7 linked regions of the Homo sapiens genome follow. The protein of the gene in region 1 purifies or fractionates together with the protein of each later gene. This does not show direct contact. Each region holds a gene or a part of one and is shown on either strand. Other genes may lie near its edges. The genes, in order: CPNE7, UTRN, BAHCC1, IDH2, EBF3, RBM6 and SUPT5H.

The links.
Region 2: the proteins of CPNE7 (region 1) and UTRN purify together in Homo sapiens (co-immunoprecipitation; one large-scale study listed by IntAct). This does not show direct contact.
Region 3: the proteins of CPNE7 (region 1) and BAHCC1 purify together in Homo sapiens (affinity purification with mass spectrometry; 2 studies listed by BioGRID and IntAct, with this or other methods). This does not show direct contact.
Region 4: the proteins of CPNE7 (region 1) and IDH2 purify together in Homo sapiens (co-immunoprecipitation; one large-scale study listed by IntAct). This does not show direct contact.
Region 5: the proteins of CPNE7 (region 1) and EBF3 purify together in Homo sapiens (affinity purification with mass spectrometry; 2 studies listed by BioGRID and IntAct, with this or other methods). This does not show direct contact.
Region 6: the proteins of CPNE7 (region 1) and RBM6 purify together in Homo sapiens (co-immunoprecipitation; one large-scale study listed by IntAct). This does not show direct contact.
Region 7: the proteins of CPNE7 (region 1) and SUPT5H purify together in Homo sapiens (affinity purification with mass spectrometry; one large-scale study listed by BioGRID and IntAct). This does not show direct contact.

What each region holds. Positions count from the first base shown.
Region 1 is NC_000016.10:89,578,758-89,582,257, reverse strand, and holds part of CPNE7 (copine-7), read right to left. Parts: intron 3,402-3,500; coding exon of another isoform or gene 3,262-3,401; intron 1-3,261. UniProt on the Homo sapiens protein: Calcium-dependent phospholipid-binding protein that may play a role in calcium-mediated intracellular processes.
Region 2 is NC_000006.12:144,456,335-144,459,834, forward strand, and holds part of UTRN (utrophin), read left to right. Parts: intron 1-2,435; coding exon 2,436-2,677; intron 2,678-2,839; coding exon 2,840-3,020; intron 3,021-3,500.
Region 3 is NC_000017.11:81,461,457-81,464,143, reverse strand, and holds part of BAHCC1 (BAH and coiled-coil domain-containing protein 1), read right to left. Parts: coding exon 2,098-2,687; intron 1,405-2,097; coding exon 1,168-1,404; intron 534-1,167; coding exon 327-533; 3' UTR 1-326.
Region 4 is NC_000015.10:90,092,469-90,095,968, forward strand, and holds part of IDH2 (isocitrate dehydrogenase [NADP], mitochondrial isoform 1 precursor), read right to left. Parts: intron 1-3,500. UniProt on the Homo sapiens protein: Plays a role in intermediary metabolism and energy production. It may tightly associate or interact with the pyruvate dehydrogenase complex.
Region 5 is NC_000010.11:129,961,475-129,965,679, reverse strand, and holds the start of EBF3 (transcription factor COE3), read left to right. Parts: upstream 1-1,405; 5' UTR 1,406-1,911; coding exon 1,912-2,045; intron 2,046-2,156; coding exon 2,157-2,313; intron 2,314-2,674; coding exon 2,675-2,738; intron 2,739-3,453; coding exon 3,454-3,509; intron 3,510-4,205. UniProt on the Homo sapiens protein: Transcriptional activator. Recognizes variations of the palindromic sequence 5'-ATTCCCNNGGGAATT-3'.
Region 6 is NC_000003.12:49,946,650-49,950,149, reverse strand, and holds part of RBM6 (RNA-binding protein 6), read right to left. Parts: intron 1-3,500. UniProt on the Homo sapiens protein: Specifically binds poly(G) RNA homopolymers in vitro.
Region 7 is NC_000019.10:39,459,082-39,462,581, reverse strand, and holds part of SUPT5H (transcription elongation factor SPT5), read right to left. Parts: intron 3,399-3,500; coding exon 3,333-3,398; intron 3,024-3,332; coding exon 2,993-3,023; intron 2,691-2,992; coding exon 2,622-2,690; intron 1-2,621. UniProt on the Homo sapiens protein: Component of the DRB sensitivity-inducing factor complex (DSIF complex), which regulates mRNA processing and transcription elongation by RNA polymerase II.

The sequences.
Region 1 (3,500 bases):
TTGAGGCAGAAGTCAGGGGTCAGAGGTCAGGTCAGGCTCAAAGCCACAGCACAGGGACTGGATGCCAGTAGCTTCTCCCTTGACCGTGGTGCCCTGCAGGTCAGCTGGGTGGCCACAGAGCAGGAACCCACGAGGGGCCTCCTCATTGCTGGAAGTTTGCACATATCCACAGCACACGTGCTCACACACACATTCATATCTGCACGCAGGTGTCCACACGGACCCTGTGTGTGTGCTTATGTGAACAGGCATAGGATGTCCTGCACGGATTATGACATACATGTGCACCTGTGTGTACATAGAAAGGTGTCCAGGCCAGACACAGTGGCTCATGCCTATAATCCCAACATTTTGGGAGCCCAGGGTGGGTGGATCGGTGAGCCCGGGAGTTCAAGACCAGTTGGGGCAACATGGTGAGACCCCTGTCTCTTCAAAAAATGCAAAACGTAGCCAGGTCTGGTGGCGTACACCTGTAGTCCCAGCTACTCAGGAGGCTGAGGTGAGAGGATTGCTTGAGCACAGGCCGTTGAGGCTGCAGTGAGCTGTGACTGTCCCACTGCACTCCAGCCTGGGCGGCAGAGTGAGAACCCAACTCAAAAAAACAAAAAAAGCATGTCCATATTTCTGTGTCCGTGCCATCCTCTTCCATCTGTGCCCTCCCTAACTCTCAGTTTCCTTATCTAAAAAATGGGGAGGACAACAGGATCGATGGCACGCCAGCTCCGACCGAGGCTGCAGGGGGATGAGTCACGCAGACATTATGTTGGGTAAAAGAATTCCACAGCAGGGAGAACACGCGCTGTGATTCATGGACGTGGAATTCCAGAAGAGACGAACCAGGCGGGGAGCTGGCCACAAAGGGGCAGGGGCAGCTGCGGGTGACGGGATGTTCCGTGTGATGGGTGACGGGATGTTCCGTGTGACGGGTGATGGGATGTTCCGTGTGATGGGTGACGGGATGTTCTGTGTGACTGGTGACAGGATGTTCCGTGTGACGGGTGATCGGATGTTCCGTGTGAGTGGGTGATGGGATGTTCCATGTGATGGGTGATCAGATATTCCGTGTCAGCGGGAGACGGAATGTTCCGTGTGACGGGTGACGGGATGTTCCATGTGATGGGTGAGATGTTCTGTGTGATTGGTGAGATGTTCCATGTGACGGGTGATGGGATGTTCCGTGTGACAGGTGACGGGATGTTCCATGTGATGGGTTACGGGATGTTCCGTGTGACGGGTGACGGGATGTTCCGTGTGACAGGTGATGGGATGTTCCGTGTGATGGGTGAGATGTTCCATGTCAGCGGGTGACGGGATGTTCCGTGTGATGGGTGAGATGTTCCATGTGACGGGTGATGGGATGTTCCGTGTGACGGGTGATGGCATGTTCCGTGTGACGGGTGATGGGATGTTCCGTGTGATGGGTGACGGGATGTTCCGTGTTACAGGTGACGGGATGTTCCGTGTGACGGGTGAGATGTTCTGTGTCAGCGGGTGATGGGATGTTCCGTGTGATGGGTGAGATGTTCTGTGTCAGCGGGTGACGGGATGTTCCGTGTGACAGGTGAGATGTTCCGTGTGATGGGTGATGGGATGTTCCATGTGACGGGTGATGGGATGTTCCGTGTGACAGGTGAGATGTTCCGTGTCAGCGGGTGACGGGATGTTCCGTGTGATGGGTGAGATGTTCCGTGTGATGGGTGATGGGATGTTCCATGTGACGGGTGATGGGATGTTCCGTGTGACGGGTGAGATGTTCTGTGTCAGCGGGTGACGGGATGTTCCGTGTGATGGGTGAGATGTTCCGTGTGATGGGTGAGATGTTCTGTGTGATGGGTGATGGGATGTTCCGTGTGACGGGTGATGGGATGTTCCATGTGACGGGTGATGGGATGTTCCGTGTGACGGGTGATGGGATGTTCCGTGTGACGGGTGAGATGTTCTGTGTCAGCGGGTGACGGGATGTTCCGTGTGATGGGTGAGATGTTCTGTGTCTGCAGGTGATGGGATGTTCCGTGTGATGGGGGAGATGTTCCGTGTCAGCGGGTGACGGGATGTTCCGTGTGACGGGTGAGATGTTCTGTGTCAGCGGGTGACGGGATGTTCCGTGTGACGGGTGAGATGTTCTGTGTCAGCGGGTGACGGGATGTTCTGTGTGATGGGTGAGATGTTCCGTGTCTGCAGGTGATGGGATGTTCCGTGTGACGGGTGAGATGTTCCGTGTCAGCGGGTGACAGGATGTTCCGTGTGATGGGTGAGATGTTCCGTGTGATGGGATGTTCCGTGTGACGGGTGACGGGATGTTCCATGTGACGGGTGAGATGTTCTGTGTCAGCGGGTGACGGGATGTTCCGTGTGATGGGTGAGATGTTCCGTGTCAGCAGGTGACGGGATGTTCCGTGTGATGGGTGAGATGTTCCGTGTGATGGGTGTGGGATGTTCCGTGTGACGGGTGAGATGTTCCGTGTCAGCGGGTGACGGGATGTTCCGTGTGATGGGTGAGATGTTCTGTGTGATGGGTGATGGGATGTTCCGTGTGATGGGTGATGGGATGTTCCATGTGAGCAGATGACGGGATGTTCCATGTGATGGGTGAAGGGATGTTCCATGTGACGGGTGAGATGTGATGGGTGATGGGATGTTCCGTGTGATGGGTGAAGGGATGTTCTGTGTGACGGGTGAGATGTGATGGCTGACGGGATGTTCCGTGTCATGGGTGAGATGTGACAAGTGATGGGATGTTCTGTGTGATGGGATGTTCCGTGTGACGGGTGATCGGATGTTCCGTGTCAGCAGGTGACAGGATGTTCCGTGTGAGGGGTGAAGGGATGTTCTGTGTGACAGGTGAGATGTTCCGTGTGACGGGATGTTCTGTGTGACGGGTGATGGTCAGCTGTGTACAGTCACCTAAACTTGTCATTCTCAACCCTTAAGATTGATGCATTTTATCGTAAAATTTTTTTTTTTTTTTGAGACAAAGACTCACTGTCACCTGGGCTGGTGTGCAGTGGCGCGATCTCGGCTCGCTGAAACCTCTGCCTCCCAGGTTCAAGTGATTCTCCTGCCTCAGCCTCCCCAGTAGCTGGGACTACAGGCACGCACCACCACGCCTGGCTAATTTCTTTTCTATTTTTAGTAGAGATGGGGTTTCATCATGTTGGCCAGGCTGGTCTCGAACTCCTGACCTCGTGATCCCCCCACCTCGGACTTCCAAAGTGCTGCGATTACAGGCGTGAGCCACCGTGCCCGGCCTGTAAATTTTACCTCAATAAAAAAGAAGGACCCGTCCTGGCAAGGTGTGAGGATTCCGTGCAGCACAGGAAGTGCTTAGCGCAGTGTCCAGCAGGGCCCAGCACATCAACAGACACTCTCATCACGACTTGCAGAAGCCACTTTTGGGCTGGCTGTGGAGGCCGTAACCCAGAGAGCATCACCAAGGAAGCAGTGGCCACCGTAGGACCTGCTGCTCACAAGGAGGCTTCTTTTTTTTTTTTTTTTTTTGA
Region 2 (3,500 bases), on another chromosome or scaffold:
AGAGCATAGAAACAATTTTAGAAAATAAAATAGCGTGAGGCTGGGCGCAGTGGCTCACACCTGTAATCCCAGAACTTTGGGAGGCCGAGGTGGGTGGGTCACGAGGTCAGGAGATCAACACCATCCTGGGCAACATGGTGAAACCTCGTCTCTACTAAAAATACAAAAATTAGCTGGGCATGGTGGCACATGCCTGTAATCTCAGTTACTCAGGAGGCTGAGGCAGGAGAATCGCTTGAACCAGGGAGTCGGAGGTTGCAGTGAGCTGAGATTGCACCACTACACTCCAGCCTGGTGACAGAGCAAGACTCTGTCTCAAAATAATAATAATAATAATAATAATAATAATAATAATAATAATAAATAAAATAGTGTGTTTCATTTGACTTTCATAGCTGATATACTTGGTTTTCTTCGTTTAGCTTATCTTGTTCCTAGAGCTCTTCATCTAGTAAAATACAGTAGAGTAGTTGGGCATCTGGATAATGTGGCTTTATGAATCAATGCCCATTGTGGTTGCCTAAGCATATAAGCCCAGGAAGTTTGGTGAAGGTCCTATGTTTTGTAAACGTTTCCCTTGATTCCAATAGTGATAGACTGAGAAGTGTAAAGTCAAGTGAGACTGAGTGGCAGGAATGTGTTCTATGTTCTCCCTTTTAGACAATTAATAAAGTGATCTTCTGTTGATTTTGCCTTTTGACTAGTCACCTTCTAAGAACTCTGTGTTTTATAGAAATAGAAAATTTTAAACTCTGGATCTCTGGGAGTAAAACAACTATTTTTAAAGACAATGTGCAGTTTTCCTTTTATAAGATGTAAATTGTGTTTGAATCATTACCGGGCATCACTGTAACCAGCAATATCTCAGGATTAGAGAAAGGGAGATTCAGATGTTTAAAATTGGTTTAAAGAGGCAAAATGAATGGCTTGTAAGACATTGTCAGTGAAAAAATAACTGAAGTTGTTTTAACCGCCCTTGTTCTTGAAGTGAGCACCTCTTTCCAGTTTTCTAGATGAGTAGTGGTAATTTTCCATCTCAGAAATTTTATTTACCTACTTAATTTTCTTCCTTGATTAGTATGAATTGTCCAACATAAAGATGATGTGGCTGGTGTTACTATTCCTTTGCCTGCCTAGAATAGAAATGATGGGGCAGGGGCATGACCCATATCTCCATTGTTCATATTGTTAGGAAAATGGTGATTTGTTTTGTATACTCTCCCCATTAACAGGGGTAATGCAGCATGGCTTGTGGTGTGAATGCTTTGCTTATGTCTCATATTCTCTTACCTGAGAGATGGTGGTGAACAGTGAACTTCTGCAATTGACATAGGTGACACATTCAAATGACAGCATGATATGCCCTCATTTATGATTTTCAGTAGACACAGTGTATTATAAAAATTTTCAAAGTTGCATTGTCTGTGGATCATACATGACTTTTTGTTTTTATGCCTTTGTTTTTTAGTTCAAGCTCTCATTATCCTGGATTTTGATCATATATGTTTATAAAGCAGGATTGTTTTATTGCTTTCCTACTCAATAAAAATGTGAAGCCATCCTTTTGGTATGCATGTTTTCCTCCGAATAGAAAGATTCCTTTGAAGATTTCCCATACTTTTTCATAGTCATTTTAGAGGATTTGAAGGTATTTTAGATTAAGGGAAGGACTATGATAAAACCTATTATTATATATGACTTTATTATTTTTAGGAACATTCTCTACTTTTCAAAAATATCGGACAAATAAAATGATAAGATTTCAGTAATAAAAATGGTGGCATTGTTTTCCCTGATGTGTTTCTAAAGTAGATCATCTTATTGCTGCCTCAGTCTTTTGGTATTTGCTTATTTATGTGCAAGGTCTCCAGTGGGCTTGCTGATGCTTCTAGAGCCTGGCTGCTGGCTTAATATTCCTGCACTCACCAGGTTGCTTCCCAGCATAAGGCATCCTCGCCATTCATTTTTTAATTTATATGACACTGTGCTTTGGTCACCAAGACCTGAGCTGCCTCCTAGTTTTTCTAGCCAGCTTTCTTTTTTTCTTAGGACAAAGGGTCTTCTTTCTGAAGTCGGGCCTAGACAGATCAAGGTAGTTGATCTTATTTCACTGGTTCAGGTGATAAACTAGCAGAGTAGAAGCATGGCATGGATGGAAACATATATTATCTAGAAAAGGCAGTGGCTGAAGTTCTACTGATGTGCCTGAATCGTTATTTTAAAATGTCTTTCTTCTTTGTTCAAGGAATTGAAATAAACATCATTATTTTTAAGTGCATCATTATAAATTTTTGTTGTTGTATTAAAAGGGACTTAAGAAAGTGATCATTATGTGTGACATTGCCTCACTATTCTGAGTGTTAGAATGTTCAGAATAAATTCAAGACACATTTTGTAATATATAGACTGTTTGCTTGTTTTTCATGTCTGCATAGAAGGCCTTCCTACTGAAGAAATAAAAAATGTTCTGGAGAAGGTTTCATCAGAATGGAAGAATGTATCTCAACATTTGGAAGATCTAGAAAGAAAGATTCAGCTACAGGAAGATATAAATGCTTATTTCAAGCAGCTTGATGAGCTTGAAAAGGTCATCAAGACAAAGGAGGAGTGGGTAAAACACACTTCCATTTCTGAATCTTCCCGGCAGTCCTTGCCAAGCTTGAAGGATTCCTGTCAGGTAAGGAGCCAACGGTCTGGAAAGTGGAGGAATTCTATGTGCAGTTCCAGAGTTAAGGAGGGCTTCTCGTATCATGAACTTTAAGTTAATGCTGCCCTGATTAACTTCCTGTGAGGATGTTCATCTTCAGTGAGTTGTGTGACCGTATTTTCTCTTCCTTAGCGGGAATTGACAAATCTTCTTGGCCTTCACCCCAAAATTGAAATGGCTCGTGCAAGCTGCTCGGCCCTGATGTCTCAGCCTTCTGCCCCAGATTTTGTCCAGCGGGGCTTCGATAGCTTTCTGGGCCGCTACCAAGCTGTACAAGAGGCTGTAGAGGATCGTCAACAACATCTAGAGAATGGTAAACCCAACAATTTTAAAATCTCCTGTCTCAGTTTGCCTTAATGTAAACATGACTCCCAACATTTAGAACTTGAGTACACTTGCTTGCTTTGCACCAACCTTCTCCATTTTCCTTTGTGCCTGTATTGTTCAAAGTCTTAAAGTCTTCTGTATTCAGATTCTTTTCCAGATTCACACCTTTTTGTAAACATACAAGCAAGTTTCACATTCTCTAAAATTGTGTCAGTAGGATATAATAATAATTTTTTTTTTTGTAGCTACAGGATCTCACTCTGTCACCCAGGCTGGAGAGCAGTGGTGCAATCATAGCTGCAGTCTTGACCTCCTGGGTTTCAGTGGTCCTTCTGCCTCAGCCTACTGAGTAGCTGGGACTACAGGCATGCACCACCATGCCTGGCTGGTTTTTTATTTTTAGTAGAGCCAGGGTCTAGCTATGTTGCCCACGCTGGTCTAGAACTCCTGGGCTCAAGTGATCTTC
Region 3 (2,687 bases), on another chromosome or scaffold:
TACTAGGGAATATGGCTTGGATTCAAATCTCCCGTGAACTGCCGGTGCGGGAAACGGAGGGCGCTGTGGGTGGGGCGGGCCGGGGACCCATGAGGGCCACAGCCCGACCCTCCGCAGAGGATGGGACGGGACTGGATTCCGACACCTGGAGCGCTCTTTCCAGGGAAAACCGTAAGAAAGCCTGGGTCTTGCCCTGTGGGCTTTTGCATATTTGCTCAGATGCGCCCTTGGGAGGCCGGGGCTGCCTCCTGCCCGGTGGCTTGGCCGACGCCAGGCTCCGCACACAGGGTCCCTGGCGCACGTGGGAGGCATCTGCGGTGGGCGGCTCAGCATAGGATGGGCACGCCATCAGCCGTCACCAGGCGCCCGGTGGTGGGGTCGTAGGTGCCCGCCAGGTAGTAGAGGTCCTGCCGGTCCTGGCACTTGCGGCTCCGGGCCATCTGCTCATACTGCTCGCGCGCCACGACCTGGCACTTGTGGGAGATGGTCTGCACGTCGTTCTCATCCTCGTGGCAGGACTGGTACAGCGCATTCTGGGGGCAAGGCGCGCGGGGCATCAGTGGCCGGCCTTGGCCAGTGCGCCCCTGCCCAGCCAGGAAAGACCACCCGCCCACCCATGCTCTGTAAGGGTCACCGGATGGACTTCTGTGTGGCCGGAAGACGGGGCCGAGGAACCTGCCAGGGACCAGGTCCAGGCAGCCCTGTCTGTCCAGAGGCCGAGGAACCTGCCGGGGACCCTCTGGGGGCTGTCGGAGTCAGAGAAATACTAATTTCCCTGAAAGATGGACGTGTCATATGGTCTGGAAAATGGCTTCTTCTCAGAGAGGAGCAGAGGGTGTGCTGAGTGCAATTTCTGTCTCAGGCTGGCACTGGAGGCAGGGAGGGCCCACGGGGTGGGGGCCGCCACACATCCCAGGAGTGAACTAGACCTGCCGGATGCTGAGCACTGCTGTGGGCCACAGCCCCCCACTGTGGGGAGGGACCTGGGAGCCCTGCTCTAGGGCATGCCCATGGGCTGTGCGGCTCCCTGCAGGGCCGTGGTACCTGCTGAGCGGGGGCTGTGTGGTGGGGCCAGGTGCTCCGTGTTGGGGCACAGTGCTGGCTGCTGTCGTGTCCCCTCCCTGGGGCCCCGAGGGGGGCTGGGCCCCACACCTGTCCGGGCCTCACCTTGCCGTCGCACTGCCTCTTGCCCAGCTTGGTCTCCTCAGGGTGGTAGAACCACTTGACCTTGACCACCATGTTGCTGCCCCACGACTCCCACATGCTCTCGATGCGGCCGATGTAGGGGAGGTTGGGCCGCCCAGCTGACAGGAAGACGGCACAGTCCCCGACACGCAGGGTCTCCTCGCCCCGCACGATGGCCTTGTAGAACAGCTTCCGGGCCTTCCCCTTCATGCCACGCCGCTGTGGGGGACATGGGCAGGGTGGCTCTGAGAGGCCGGGGGGCTGTGGGGACAGGTGGCGGCCAGGAGGCATGGAGGGTGTGGTGTGGGTGTGAGTGTGAGTCTGAGTGTGAGTGTGCAGGGCGCCCACAAGGGCAGGAAGCCGCAGCACCGCGGCTTAAGGCCATGGCAGCCATGGATCTGGAGCAGGGGCCACGCCTCCACGGAGCCCGCACATGGAATCATGACGTCTGGACACTGGATCTGGGACAGGGACATGTGGACAAGACGTTCACCACAGTGTTATTTACGAAGGCAAAAGACCCACGAGTGGCCCCACATGCGCCCCCGAGCAGTGCCCTGGTGAGGACAGACGCAGGCATCTGAGTGCGGGGATACACAGCTCTCCAGCTGGCCACGCCACTTATCAACGTGGAAAAGTGAGGCCACACCATGCGGAGTGCAGCTCAGGCCCGGCCCGACATGAAGCCATTTCTACTGTCACGCAGGCCACGGGCTCCAGCGAGGGGCCAGCGGAAGCGGCTGCCTCACTGGGTCATGGATGGGTCTTTGTTCTTCCCTTGAGTTTTCCACATTTTTTAACTTGAAATCAAGTAGGAAGATGAAAAAGGAGAGGGAAGGGCAGCAGGGGCGCATGAGCCCGCCCCGGTTTCCTTGGGAACCAGGAGCTCCTCCCGCCTCCCGCTGGACCTACCTGTGTGGGATTCCCCGACCACTTCCAGAGCTGCCGGGCGGGCAGGAAGGCTGAGATCTTTGGCCGGTTTTCCACGGAGGGCGGCCGCTGCCTCCGGGAGAGCTCTTTGGCTTTGGAGAAGCTCAGGGCCTCTTTGCGCTTGAGCTTGGATTTGCTGCTGCTGCTGGGGCCTGAGCCCGCACCGGTGCCAGCCACCGTGGCCCTGGACAGGAAGCAGCGCTGGGCATGCGCGTGAGGGCCGCTGCCCTTGGAGCGCAGGGCCTCGGGCTGGGCCAGGAGGGTGGGCACGGGGTGGGTGAGGCAGGTCTGCAGCAGCAGAGCCGGGTCCTCGTCGTCTGAGCTGTAGGACGAGTCCTCGTTGTCGGAGGAGCAGAGGCTGGAGGTGGACACGGAGCCTGAGGAGGAGGAGGTGGACGAGCCAGAGGAGGAAGAGGACACGGACAGGCGGGCGAGGAAGCGGGAGGGCACGCCGGCCGCCAGCCCCGGCCCGTCCTCGTCCTCGTCCGAGAAGGAGCTGTGGCAGTCGCTGTCGTAGGGCAGCGGGAACTCTGCCTGGCCCGCGTACTTGCGCAGCGCCAGCCCCATGGGCA
Region 4 (3,500 bases), on another chromosome or scaffold:
CATCATAGCTTACTGCAGCATTGACTTCCTGGCTTCAAGTGATCCTCTGACCTCAGCCTCCCAAGTAGCTGGGACTACAGGCGCATGCCACCACACCCAGCTATTTTTAATTTTTTTTTTTTCTGAGACGAAGTTTCGCTATTGTCCCCCAGGGTGGGAGTGCAGTGGCATGATCTCAGCCCACTGCAACCTCCGCCTCCCGAGTTCAAGTGATTCTCGGGCCTCAGCCTCCCAAGTAGCGGGGATTTCAGGTGTGCACCACAACACCTGGCTAATTTTTTGTATTTTTAGTAGAGACAGGGTTTCACCATGTTGGCCAGGCTGGTCTCAAACTCCTGACCTCAAGTGATCCACCTGCCTTGACCCCCGCAAAGTGCTGGGATTACAGGCGTGAGCCACCGTGCCAGCCTAATTTTAAAATTTTTTTGTAGAGATGGAGTCTTGCCCTGTTGCCCAGGCTGGCTGGACTCCCCACCCCACCCCCACTTTAATCTGGCTAGGTAGAACTACCCAAAAACATGCCCAGCCCACCAGTGGCCAAGAGGGTGGGGGCCAGTCTGGCCTGTCAGACCCTCTCCCCCTGGAATATGAAGGCAGAGGAGATCAACACAAAGAACACTGGCTAGCTGCGGCTGCCTCATCCAGCACCAAATCAGTAAGAGGTTGTCCAGGGGCTCCTGCCATCCAGTTCCTAAGGAGGGCCTGGGTCCTCTTTTATGTATTTACTTATTGTTTAGAGTCAGGGTCTCTTTATCTCTCTCTGTTGCCCAAGCCAGGCTCAGACTCCGGGGCTCAAGCAATCCTTGCACCTCAGCCTCCTTAGTAGCTGGGGCTACAGGCCCATGCCAAGATATTACTTTTGTCCAAGACTTAGTTCTTTATAGTTTTCCCTGCAATTCTATGAGCTACGCTGTGTAGCTCATAATAAAATCCTCTCCAAGTTAACCAGTCACTAACTTTGTCTGTTGCGTGCAACCCAAGAGCCCTCAACTAACTTGTGGTGATAAAGGAAATAGTATAGATAGGTATTGAGTGCCTACTATGTGCCTTACAGTGTACCAATGCTGTACAATGTGATTCCATTTAATCCCAAAAACAACCCCAAGGAGGTATCATTACCTCCATTTTATTTAATTAATTAATTTATTTATTTATTTATTTATTTTTTGAGACAGAGTCTTTGGTCTGTCACCCAGGCTGGAATGCAATGGCGTGATCTCGGCTCACTGCAACCTCTGCCTCCCGGGTTCAAGCGATTCTGCTGTCTCAGCTTCCTGAGTAGCTGGGATTACAGGCACACGCCACCAGGCCCGGCTAATTTTTGTATTTTTAGTAGAGACGGGGTTTTGCCATGTTGGCCAGGCTGGTCTCGAACTCCTAGCCTCAGGTGATCCACCCACTTTGGCCTCCCAAAGTGCTGGGATTACAGGCGTGAGCCACCACGCCTGGCCATTATCTCCATTTTAAGTGTGGGAAACTGAGGCTCAGAGAGGTTAACAGCTTACTGCCCAAGGTTACAGAGCTTGAAAACAGCAGAGTCACGAGGACTCTGACCCTATTCAACAGGAAGGACAGGCTTACAGCACCTGCGAATGGAACTCAGAACCCTTGATCCCAGCCGACGCAGGTGGGTCAGTCCTACCAGAGAAGCATCAAAGGACTCAATGAGGGGCTGATCAGAGGTCCAGGGAGACCAGTGGAGGGTAGGGGGCAGGGGACGCTACTGAAGGAGAGTCTGACTCGCAGGAATACCCAACAGTCTGGGAAGTGAATTTCAAAGAAAACTCAGGAACTGGCCACCTAACAATGAATCAGTACAGCTGCCTTGGACAAGGCTTGTTGAACCTCAGCCTGCAGCAGATAGGGGCACCGGGGCACCAGCCTGCTCCTCTGCCCACAGCCTGGGAAGAAGCAGCAAATGCAGAGCAGGGAACAAGATCTAATAAAACTTCAGTCACAGGGAAATCTCACCAGCTCAGCTGAGAGCTGTGCCCTTTCCTCAAAGCAGCACTCCTCAGCCTCACTTACAGCCCAATTACTCTTGTGTTACACACAGTCCTTAGAGAGGTGGTGATGTGTCTTCAGCTCCACTCTAGATTAGACACAGCAAATCAGGTGAAGGGAAGAGAATGATTATTTGAAAACACTGGGTTGGGGCTGGGTGTAATGGCTCATGCCTGTAATCCTAGCACTTTGGGAGGCTGAGGCAGGTGGATCACTCAAGGTAAGGAGTTCAAGACCAGCCTGGCCAACATGGTGAAACCCCATCTCTACTAAAAATAGAAAAATTAGGCATGGTGGCACGTGCCTATAATCCCAGCTACCGAGGAGGCTGAGGCAGGAGAATCGCTTGAACCCGGGAGGTGGAGGTTGCAGTAAGCCAAGATCACGGCACTGCACTCCAGCCTGGGCAACAGAACGAGACTCCATCTCAAAAAAACAAACAAACAAACAAAAAAAACTGGGTGGGAAGAACTGACAAGGGACAGAATACCTGTGAAAAGCAGGCCTAGAAACCACCTCGGCACATTTAAAACAAAAGTGATTAAAGCCTAACAGACCTCAAACAACTGACTTTCCAAAGATATGCAAAGAGTTTGTTTTTTTTTTTTAATCTAAAAATAATCTTAGAGATCATTTAGGGGGAATAATGAGACTCAGAGAGTGTGGTCTGCATCAGAGGCAAGATAGAGCCCAGGTCCCTGACCCAAATGCAGCCTCTGGAAGACCCGTGGGTCAGATGTAGAGAAGCAGAACACAAACACAGCCTTGGACTATTCCATTCCCTAGAGAACAAAAGGTGGCTGGCTGCTGGCTCTACTGCCTTTCCCAAGACGCGATGGGGATTTTGAACCCAATCTACAATATTCCTTCACTTTTTTCTGAAGCTTGAGTGGAAAGAGCTGCAGAACCTGCGGAAAGTCTGTTGAGCTGTTGCAGAGCTAGTTTAGTTCTGGGGAGCATCTCCTATGAGTTAATTTGAGGACAGCTAATCAAATTTGTTAAAAAAAAAAAAAAATGAACTATCATAATCAGGAGCCCTAAGGAGAGACTCACTTGGGGCCAGTTCTTCAGGTTTCAGCCTCAGCCTGGGCTCCACGGTTGGGCTTCAGGCAGGCATGGCTAGGAGAGTTCAAGGTCAAGATCAAAGACCTGATGTGTCAAACCCTCAGAGACCACAGGACCTGATTATTTACTCACCGGCAGGTGCTAACTAAGCACTTATCCAGTACCCCACTGGGATACTGAAATGCCTAAAACACAACAGTGCCTGCCCGGAGGCAGTGAATGTGGAAGGGGAAACCTACAGGTAACAGAGAGAGAGCAAGCAGGGCTGTCACCAAAGTCAGGAGTGCCCAGGCCTCCCTGGAAGCAAACATCCCAGGGGAACTGAGAACAGCAACATGAGCCAAGGCCAGCAGAGACTTGTTCTGCTTGTTCCAGGTACTGGTTTTTTAAAAAAATCTTAATTGGTGACCAAGTTTTAAAAATCAGTAAAT
Region 5 (4,205 bases), on another chromosome or scaffold:
TCCTTCCAAGAGGCGTGGGGGTCCCCAGACAACGTGAATCGGACTTCGACTTTCCCGATTAATTAAAATATTAACGTACACACGCTGCCAATTCACGGGAAAAGGGAGTGCTGCCCCAGACCCGGCGGGAGGAGGCTGCCCTGCAACACACTTGCGCCCTGCAATCTTTTTTTTTTTTTTCTTTTAATCAAAAGGGCCTGATTTCTCTTGGCAGGGAAGTGCCTAGGACAGTTCCTGGTCGTCCCCTGGGTCTCTGCTCCGTGTCGCGCAGACGTCCTTTGGGCGGGCCGCGCTCCTGGGCGCGGAGTCCCGGCTACAGGAGCTGGGCCGCGGGGCCCACAGTCTGCCCGCGCCCGGCTGCCCTCCCGATTCCTAGAAACCAGGTCGGGAAGCCGCGCGCCGCGCGCTCACCCGGGTCCGGCGGCTCCGAGGGCCGGGCCACAGCGCCCGCGGCGTCCGCTTGGTTTTTGGAGCAGTTGGCTCCAGGGCGGTCTGGCCACCGCGCAGGTCGCGCAGCCAGACACCCGGCTCCGGGTCGCCGGAGAGGCCGGGCGCGCTTCCCGTCGGCCCGGAGAGACCGGAGCCTTCTTTGTCACTCGCTGTGCGTAAGAACAGGCCAGGGGCCGGGGTCTGCCGCGGCCACCGGGGGAGAGGGAGCATCTGGCAGACCCTGCCTCCGACGTGATTCCCTGCCCGGCACTCGGCGGCCTCCGCCGGGGTAGGAAGCTTGGGGTACCTGGCGGGGCTCAGACCGGGACCGGCCGGCCCTGCAGCAGCCTTAGGTCTGCTTAGAAATCAGGCTGAGCTGCGCGTCCAGCCTTGGCCGGGGAGCCCTGGGCACCCCTCCTCCCAGTCCGTTGCCCGCTCCTCCCTCCGGCGCCCTCCCTGCGGTCGACCTGCCTCTTCCCACTTCTCCTTCGGGCGGCCCCAGGACAAGCTGCAGCCCCTTGCATTTATTGCATGCATCTGGGCAACTTGGGGCGCCTCAGCATTTTACAGCCCCCCGCCCCGCCCATCGTGTTCGACTGTGTGGCAGGTTTTGCAGGGAGGTATTAAGGGGCCAAACTGCAATTGTGCAGTGGCTGCGTTTGTTTCTTTTCAAGATTTATTTGGGCGAGTAGTAACTTCCTTGGCCGCGGCTGGACGCGAGGAGCCGCGGTGCGTGGCGGGGGGCGGCGGCGGCGCTCGGTGGCGCTCGGCGGCGGCGGGGCTCGCGGGGCTCGCGGGGCTCGGGCCGGCTCGCGGCGCCGTCAGGCAGTCAGTCGGCGAGCGCGGCGGCGGCGGCGGCGAGGGGCGCGGCGAGGGGCGGCCGCTCCCATATATGGCGCAGGCACCGCCCCCCGACGTCACCCTCTGACAGCGCCGCTCCCGGGGGCTTCGAGTTTTGGCTCCCGGGAAAGGGTCCATTCCTCGGGGAGAGAGGGCTGAGTTTTGTGCGCCTCCGTCCGCTGCGCGCGCCGCTCCAGGCCCCGCCGCGCCCCGCCTGCGCCCGGGACTGCGCCGCAGCACTCACTGCCCCGTTTATTTGTCTTTGGAGCAGGCGGGCCGCGCCAGAAGCGGGCGATCCCGCAGTGTCCTGCAGCCGCGGACGCCGCCTGGCTAGGATGACACCACGTTGAGCGCGCCTGCAAACAACAACAACAACAAGCGCCGCCGCGGCCACCGCGTCCTGCTCCTTCGAAGCGCCGCCGCCGCCGGTGGAGCCGCCTCCGCGCCCCTGGCCGTCCGGAGCGCCCGGCCGCTGGTGTATGTCGCGCCTGCCCGGGACGGGCTGAAGCCGGCGGCGGGGCCGGACCGCAGGCGCCGAGCAGGGCGAGGGCGGCCAGGGCAGCCGCCTGCCGCCAAGCCCCGAGCGCCGCTGCTCGAGGAAACGCTTTCGGCCGGGAGCTGCGGCCGCCGCCAGCAGTTTTCATGTTTGGGATTCAGGAGAATATTCCGCGCGGGGGGACGACCATGAAGGAGGAGCCGCTGGGCAGCGGCATGAACCCGGTGCGCTCGTGGATGCACACGGCGGGCGTGGTGGACGCCAACACGGCCGCCCAGAGGTACGTACCGGCCGCCCCCGCGCGCCCTGGCCCCGGCCCCGGCCCGGCCCGGCCCCCTCCGCCGGCCGGCGCCGCGCTCCTCACCGGGCCGCTGTCTCTTTCCTCCCGCAGCGGCGTGGGGCTGGCGCGGGCGCACTTCGAGAAGCAGCCGCCTTCCAACCTCCGGAAATCCAATTTCTTCCACTTCGTGCTGGCGCTCTACGATAGGCAGGGGCAGCCGGTGGAGATTGAAAGGACCGCTTTTGTGGACTTTGTGGAGAAAGAGAAAGTAAGTGCAAACACACGATCACACCCTCTCTCTTTCTAGAAGCGGGAGGCAGGCGGTGCCGGTGCGCGGGGGTTCGAGTGCCCCCCTAGGCGGCGGGCTCGGCTCCGCCAGGCCACCCCGCCGCCGCCACGTGCGGCCGCCCGGGACCGCCGAGGGCTGGGCAACTTCTCTGCGCCCTCGGACTTACTCGGGGCGAGGAGAACGCTGGGCTTCCAGCAGGAAAGTGACATCACCGCGCTGCTTCGAGCTAGGAATCCTGCCATGTGTGAGGCCGAGAGCCTCGGTCGCGGAGGGGGACCGAGCGTGGTGGCCGCGCCTGACACCGATCGCACTAAATGCAATTATTTATCGTTACTTTCAGGAGCCAAACAACGAGAAAACCAACAACGGCATCCACTATAAACTCCAGTTATTGTACAGCAACGGTAAGTGCCTGCTGCGTGCTCGCCGCCCCTGCAGCGGCTGGCTCTCCTTTTCTGCGCTGGTGAAAGGACATAAAGATTTGAGATTAAAATGACATGGATGTAAACACGAAATCTTCTCATGGCATAGAAGGAAAACAAAACATAAACGATCAATAAGTCGATGGCACTTCACATGATTAACCGGTGGGGCTTGAAGTAGAAAGTAAGAAAAAGATCGATACGGGCTCCAGCAGAACATCACTTTTAAGTGACTTTTTTCAATTTTGCAAATTAATGTTAATTATTAGGATGGGGGTAACTCCATAAACGGAGCATAACTTACTTCCTGTGAACGAGTTTTTTTTTTTTAAATCCTCGAGAGACATTAGAAAGAGTTCAGCCTCTCACTCAGTTTCCATTTGGTGCTTTTTCTTTTCTAAAAATAAACGACCACATGGGCCCACCGCACACAGCTACCAGGCCTGCTCTCCACCAGGCAAGTTCCTTGCACCTTGAAATGCAAGCCCTAAGAGCCTTAAGGTTCTTAGTTAAGAAAAGAAAAAAAAAATTAAGCGAGAAGTGGTGGGGTTCTCTTTCTCCCTTTCAAAGGGATTGCCTAAGTTCTGCTGCATCACCGTGGCAGCAGTCCTGAGTTACAGACTTCCTGTGCTCCGTGTGCCCTCCCCGAGGTGCAGCACTCAAATCCTGATGAGAATTTGTCTCTGTTTTTTTGCAGGAGTCAGAACAGAGCAAGATCTGTATGTTCGCCTCATAGATTCAATGACCAAACAGGTGAGAAAGTTTATGCCTCTGCACGAGTTTTCACTGCTGGGCCTGGGTTGTCCTGGGCTTCAGAGGCAAGGGCACTGACAAATGGATCTCGTGTATTTGTTTTCCATTGAGTTTCCTTGACATGCTAATGAGAATTCCATATTTATTGGAATGAATGAAGCGATTGGTAAAATAGTTTATGTTGTCATTAGAACAGGACATATATGCTTTATTAAATGTCTTGTGATTGGAATCATATTCTGTCTTAATTAATTATGGTAATTAATATTTGACAAAAATTTCAAGATGTCCCCCCTCTTGTTTATTTTTAAATGCTTCTCTCTCTGCTAGGAATCAGTTCATTTGGATTTTTTTTCCTATAACAAAGGCAGCTAACTCCTAAGCCCATCGAGTTGGACTTGATTAGTTCATTTTTTTTCTCCTTTCCAGTGTGATGGTCTAGTAACACGAGACGTTTATTTGGATTTAAAAGTTAAATGTGTTGGGGTGAAAAGTCACCTTGTTCTCCTCTAGTCCATCTTCACCTCGCAGCCCCCCAGCTCCATAATTCAAACTCCAAGCTCCAGGGGTCACTCCAACCCGTCCACTGCTCTGCCCCCTCTCCCACCCTCTGTCATACCTTGTAAATAACATAATTACAAGCAGTTCCTTATTAAATTATTTAACCTGTCTTGGTCAACTTTTCCGATGATAACT
Region 6 (3,500 bases), on another chromosome or scaffold:
CACTCCCTGGATCCAACTACAAGCTTTTAAACAGTAGCAACTTTAATATGCACTCAAGAACTGGAATTAGTGGCTGCTAGAAGCACCCTTGCCCCCCAAAATATCTCGATTTGAAAATTTTAAGTGTAGTCTGGGCCAGTGGCTCATGCCTGTAATCTCAGCACTTTAGGAGGCGGAGGCAGGCAGATCACTTGAGACCAGGAATTCAAAACCAGCCTGGCCAATATGGCGAAACCCCATTTCTACTAAAAATACATAAATTAGCTGAGCGTGGTGGTATACACCTGTAGTCCCAGTTACCCAGAAGGCTGAGAATAAAATAAATAAAATAAAAAAATAAAAAGGCTGGGCGTGGTAGCTCAGGCCTGTAATCCCAGCACTTTGGGAGGCGGGCGGATCACGAGGTCAGGAGATCAAGACCATCCTGGCAAAGACGGTGAAACCTTTTCTCCACTAAAAATACAAAAAATTGGCTGAGCACTGTGGCTCACGCCTGTATTCCCAGCACTTTGGGAGGCCAAAGTGGTCAGATCACAAAGTCATAAGATTGAAACCATCCTGGCCAACTGTTTCTACTAAAAATACAGAAATTAGCAGGGCATGGTGACAGGCGCCTGTAGTCCCAGCTACTCGGGAGGCTGAGGCAGGAGAATCGCTTGAACCCGGGAGGCAGAGGTTGCAATGAGCTGCGATCACACCACTGCACTCCAGCCTCGGGGACAGAGTGAGACTCCGTCTCAAAAAAAACAAGCAAACAAAAAAAAATGTTGTCCTGAAGGATTTTCCTCTCTGGGAGAATGTACTTCCGTTAAGTTTCAAATGAAGTGTTTTCTTTGATAAAGTAAGAGGGGGTAAGTAGGGGGAGGTAAGTAAAAAGAAGAATCAACAAGACCTATTCTTTTTATTTCATAATTTTTTATGATTCAGCAAAGCATTAACAAATGAAGAAGATTAAAGAATTTAAAAAGAAAAAAATAAAAATAATAAATTCTTGTATAATTATGGTAAAATATTTGGGTATGACCAGGCGTGGTGGCTCACACCTGTAGTCCCAGCACTTTGGGAGGCTGAGGCCAGCGGATCACAAGGTCAGAAATTTGAGACCAGCCTGGCCAATATAGTGAAACTCCATCTCTACTAAAAATACAAGAAATTAGCCAGGCGTGGTGGCAGGTACCTGTAACCCAGCTACTTGAGAGCCTGAGGCAGGAGAATTGCTTGAACCCAGGAGGCAGAGGTTGCAGTGAGCCAAGATCACGCCACAGCACTCCAGCCTGGGCGACAGTGCAAGACACCATCCCAAAAAAAAAAAAAAAAAAAAATTGGGTATGTAAATAGTCTCACTCTGTTGCCCAGGCTGGAGTGCAGGGTGCAATCTCAGCTCACTGCAACCTCTACCTCCTGGGTTCAAGCAATTCTTTTTTTTTTTTTTCTTTTTTGAGACAGAGTCTCACTCTGCTGCCAATCTAGAGTGCAGTGGCGCAATCTTGGCTCACTGCAACCTCCACCTCCTGGGTTCAAGTGATCCTCCTGCCTCAGCCTCCCAAGTAGCTGGGACTAGGTGCGCGCCACCACACCCAGCTAATTTTTTGTATTTTTAGTAGAGACTAGGTTTCATGACATTGGCCAGGATGGTCTCGATCTCTTGACCTGCCTCGGCCTCCCAAAGTGCTGGGATTACAGGCGTGAGCCACAGCACCAGGCCTCAAGCAATTCTTGTGCCTTAGCCTCCTGAGTAGCTGGAATTACAGGCACACACCACACCCAGCTAATTTTTGTATTTTAGTAAAATCGGGGTTTCACTATGTTGCCTAGGCTGGTCTCGAACCCCTGAGCACAGGCAATCTGCCCACCTCAGCCTCCTAAAGTGCTAAGATTATAGGCGTGAGCCACCGTGCCTGGCCTATTTTAACCATTTTTAAGTGTACCATTTAGCTACAGCCATCACAACAGTGCAGTAAGGACATAAAGATAGACATAAAGACCAATCAACTGAATGGAGAGACCAGAAATAAATCCTCACATATATGGTCAATTTTCTTTTTTTTTTAAGACAGATTCTCATGTCTCGCTCTGTCGCCCAGGCTGGAGGGCAGTGGCGCAATCTCAGCTCACTGCAGCCTCCACCTCCCAGTTCAAGCGATTCTCCTGCCTCAGCCTCCCGAGTAGCTGGGATTACAGCCAGGCACCACCATGCCCAGCTAATTGTGGTATTTTTAGTACAGACGGGATATTGCCATGTTGGCAAGGCTAGTCTTGAACTTTAGTCAACTGATTTTCAACAAAGGTGTCAAGACCATCCAATGGGGAAAGTACAATCTTTTTCCCAAATGGAAAATGGTACTCCGAAAACTGAATATCCACATGCATAACAATAAAGTGGGACTCTTACACAACAAAAATATATAAAAAATTAACTCAAATTGGATCAAAGACCCAAACGTAAGCGCTAAAACTATAAAATCTTAGGGGAAAAATTTCATGACTTTCGATTGGTAATATTTGCAGATGAGGCACAGATTTTAAAAAAAGAAGATAAATTGGACTTCATCAAAATGAAAACCTCTGTGCATCAAAAGACACTATCAACAGAGTATAAAGACAACCACAGAGAGAAAATATTTGTAAGTCAAATATCTGACAAGGAATTAATATCTAGAGTGTATAAAGGACTCCTAAAACTCAACAACACAGACAAAAACCTAATTTTATTTTATTTTTAGAGACTGGGCCACTCTGTCACCCAGGGTAGAGTCCAGTGGTGCAATCACAGCTCACTGCACCCTCAAACACCTGGGCTCAAGAGATCCACCTACCTCAGCCTCCTGAGCAGCTGGGAATACAGGTGTGCACCTGCACACCCAGCTCAAAACCCCCCCCCCCCCCCTTTTTTTTTTTGAGACGGAGTCTCGCTCTGTCGCCCAGGCTGGAGTGCAGTGGCTCAATCTCTGCTCACTGCGAGCTCTGCCTCCCAGGTTCACACCATCCTTCTGCCTCAGCCTCCCGAGTAGCTGGGACTACAGGCGCCTGCCACTGCGCCCGGCTAATTTTTTTTTTTTTTTTTTTTTGTATTTTTAGTAGAGACAGGGTTTCACCGTGTTAGCCAGGATGAAAAACCCCATTTTAAAATGGTCAACAAAAGACATGAATAGATACTTCTCCAAAAGAGAATATGCAAATAGCCAATAAGAACATGAACAGACGCTCAACATCACTTATCATCAGGGAAATGCAAATCAGAAACCACAATAAGATACCACTTCACATCCACTAGGATAGCTACTAATGAAAAAAAAAAAAACGAAACAGAAAATAGGCCGGGTGAGATGGCTCACACCTGTAATCCCAGCACCTTGGGAGGCCAAGGTGGACAGATCACTTGAGGTCAGGAGTTCAAGACCAGCCTGGCTAATATGGTGAAACCCTGTCTCTACTAAAATACAAAAATTAGCCAGGCGTGGTGGCACACGCCTGTAATCCCAGCTACCCGGGAGGCTGAG
Region 7 (3,500 bases), on another chromosome or scaffold:
TCTAGCCTGGGCAAGAAGAGTAAAACTCCATCTCAAAAAAACAAACAAAAAAATGAAGTCTTGATATATGCTACAATATGGATGAGTCTTGAAAACATTAAGTGAAGCAAGTCAGTCACGAAAGGCGACATATTGTATGATTCCCTTTGTATGAACCATTCAGAGTTCCAATAGTCAAATCCACAGAGAAAGAAGGTAGATTCATAGTTACCAGGAGCTGTGAGGAGGGAGGAATGGGGAGTGATGACTAATGGGTATCGGTTTATTTTTGGGATAATGAAAATGTCCTGGAATTAGATGGTGATGATGGTTATGAATACACTACAATATATAAAATCCACCACAGTTTACACTTTAAAAAAATTAAATTTTAGGCTGGGCACAGTGGCTCAGAACTGCCATCCCAGCACTTTGGGAGGCCAAGGCGGGTGGATCACTTGAGCCAGGAGTTCAAGACCAGGCTGGCCAACATGGTGAAACCCCGTCTCTATTAAAAATACAAAAAAATCAGCCGGGCATGGTGGCGGATGCCTATAATCCCAGCTACTCGGGAGGCTGAGGCAGAGGTTGCAGTGAGCCGAGACCACACCATTGCACTCCAGCCTGGGCAACAAGAGTGAAACTCCGTCTCAAAAAAAAATAATAATCAGAGACATAACTCAAATGAAGTAACTAGAATTTTACCCCAGGGTACCATGTAGGAGGATTTGAGCACACTTCTTTTAATTATTATTATTATTATTTTTTTTTTTTTTTTTTTGAGACAGTCTCGCTCTGTTGCCCAGGCTGGAGTGCAGTGGCACGAGCTTGGCTCACTACAACCTCCAACTCCTGGGTTCAAGCAATTCTCCTGTCTCAGCCTCCCAAGTAGCTGGGATTATAGACATGCACCACCACCCCTGGCTAATCTTTTGTATTTTTGGTAGAGACGGAGTTTCACCATGCTGGTGAAGCTGGTCTCGAACTCTTAACCTCAGGTGATCCACACGCCTCAGTCTCCCAAAGTGCTGGGATTACAGGCGTGAGCCACCGCGCCCGGCCTATTATTATTTTCTTTGTAGAAATCAGTTGTCACTATGTCACTATGATGTCCAGGCTGGCCTCGAACTCCTTTTGCCTCAGCCTCCCAAAATACTGGTATTACAGACATTAGCCACCACACCTAGCCAAAAGGTACCTTTTCAACCTCCCTGTTGGGGAATCATACCCCACAAATCCCAATCTCACCCATGACAGGCAGGGACACTTATTACTATAATAATGAGGAAGACATTCCACCCCCTACCCACCCCGAGACGGAGTCTCACTCTGTCGCCCAGGCTGGAGTGCAATAGCGCAGTCTTGGCTCACTGTAACCTCTGCCTCCTAGATTCAAGTGATTCTCCTGCCTCAGCCTCCCAAGTAGCTGGGATTACAGTCAAGCACCACCATGCCCAGCTGATTTTTGTATTTTTGGTAGGGACAAGGTTTCACCATGTTGGCCAGGCTGGTCTCAAACTGGCTGGTTTCGAACTCCTAACCTCGTGATCCACCCACCTCAGCCTCCCTAAGTGCTGGAGATTCAGGCATGAGCCACCATGGCCGGCCTTTGAGGAGGACATTTGAGCACATTTAAAAGCATAGTTTGCAAACCCTACAACTGTCTACTTGGTCCCACTGGGTCACACCCAGTGGCTGGACAGGTGAAAGCATGATCCCTAGCAGGGATCATGTTAACTGAGAAAGTTACCAGCCAGCACCCTTCATAGCGTTTGCCCTGGTTCCCAAACTGCCAATGAAGCCTTTGACAACAGCTCTGCTAAGTAAATGCAAGCTGCAGAACAAGTCCTAGCTGAGAGCTGGACATAAAGCCACCTAATCCTTTTTTTTGTCACACTGGAGTGCAGTGATGCGATCTCGGCTCACCGCAACTTCTGCCTCCTGGGTTCAAGTGATTCTGCCTCAGCTTCCCAAGTAGCTGGGACTACAGGTGTGCACCACCACGCCCAGCTGAGTTTTGTATTTTTAGTAGAGACGGGGTTTCACCACGTTGGCCAGGCTGGTCTCAAACTCCTGACCTCAAGTGATCTGCCTGCCTCAGCCTTCCAGAGTGCTGGTATTACAGGTGAATGCCACTGCACCCAGCCAAAAGCCACTTAATCCTAATGATGCTGAGAGGCAACCAAGGGGCCCAGAGAGGGGAAGTAGGTGCATCAGAGTCACACAGCTAAGAAGTGGCAAGGGCAGGACTCAAACTCTGTCAGTCTAAAGAAAGACCTGGGCCTTGGATGCAGCATTTGCTGCCTGGCATGTGGTGAAGTGGGTGACCCCAGCCCAACAGGGCTGGTGAACAGGCAAACCCACTCTCATGAAGAAAAGGTGCAGGAAGCTAGCTGGCTGACTTCCAAAGGGCTACAAGGGTGGGAAGACCCTGCCATAAATGCAGAGAACAAAGACAACATATCCATCTAGGCCGAGAAGAGCCCTTCCATCTAGGCAGTGGTCTTATTCCAGCTCAAGCAGCTCACTCAGCAGGCAGCTCTGCTCACAACAGAGGCACCTGGTACCCCTGAAGTTGACAATGTTCTTCCCTCTGGGTGTTGCCATGTCTCCCCACCAAGCCGCCTGTCTACCCGACTTACCGTGTCTGTGAACTGGTAGGCAATGAACTTGCGCATCAAGGAAATGGCCGTGGCCCGTTCCTCCCCAATCTGGAAGATGAGAGGCAGATTTGAGAGAGATGACAGGATGGAGGAAAGGACACAGGAAAGGGGGAAGGAGACAGCAGCAAGAAAAATAAAGTAGGACCAAGAGAGGAGAGAGAAAGAAGGATGGACAGCCAGGAAGATGGAGGTGGGAGATAGCCAGTCAGTAACGTGGAGTGAGGGATGGAGACAGAAGGACCAAGTGACTGGCAGGCCACGGAGACCCGGGACAGACAGACACTTCTCCCCCACAAAGCAGCCTCCCTCATTCTCCCACCTCCTCCAAGCCCCGAGATCAGAGCACATACCTTACATTTGACAGTCCACAGATTGGGATCCCTAAGCAGCAGAGGAAAAGGAAGGCCTTCAGTGAAGCTGGATCTTCAGTAACAAACAGACGAACCCCCAGGGCCACCCCCTTCCTCTGGTTTCACATCCAGGTTCCCTCACACTCACTGACTTCCCCACGCTTCTACCCAGGAGCAAGAGGAAAGAGAAAGTGCCACCTTGCCCTCCCTACCCCTGCCATCCACCACACTGCCTGTGTGACTCTGCCCTGACTTATTTCAGGGAGCCACCTGTCTAGGCACCATCACCCCATACAAGATTCGCACCCCAGCACGGCCCCCACCATCCCAACCCCCTTACTTGACTCCTGGGAGCAGCTGCTGCTGGGTGATGTCGTCTGAGAGCTCATCAGATCCTCCATACACCCTGAAGGGAGGAGGGCAGTCAGGAAGGGGTGAAGCTCTGTCAGATCCCCGCCCCTTCCCGCTTAGGGACCACCTGCTCCCTGCCCCCACCTGCCCCCACCAT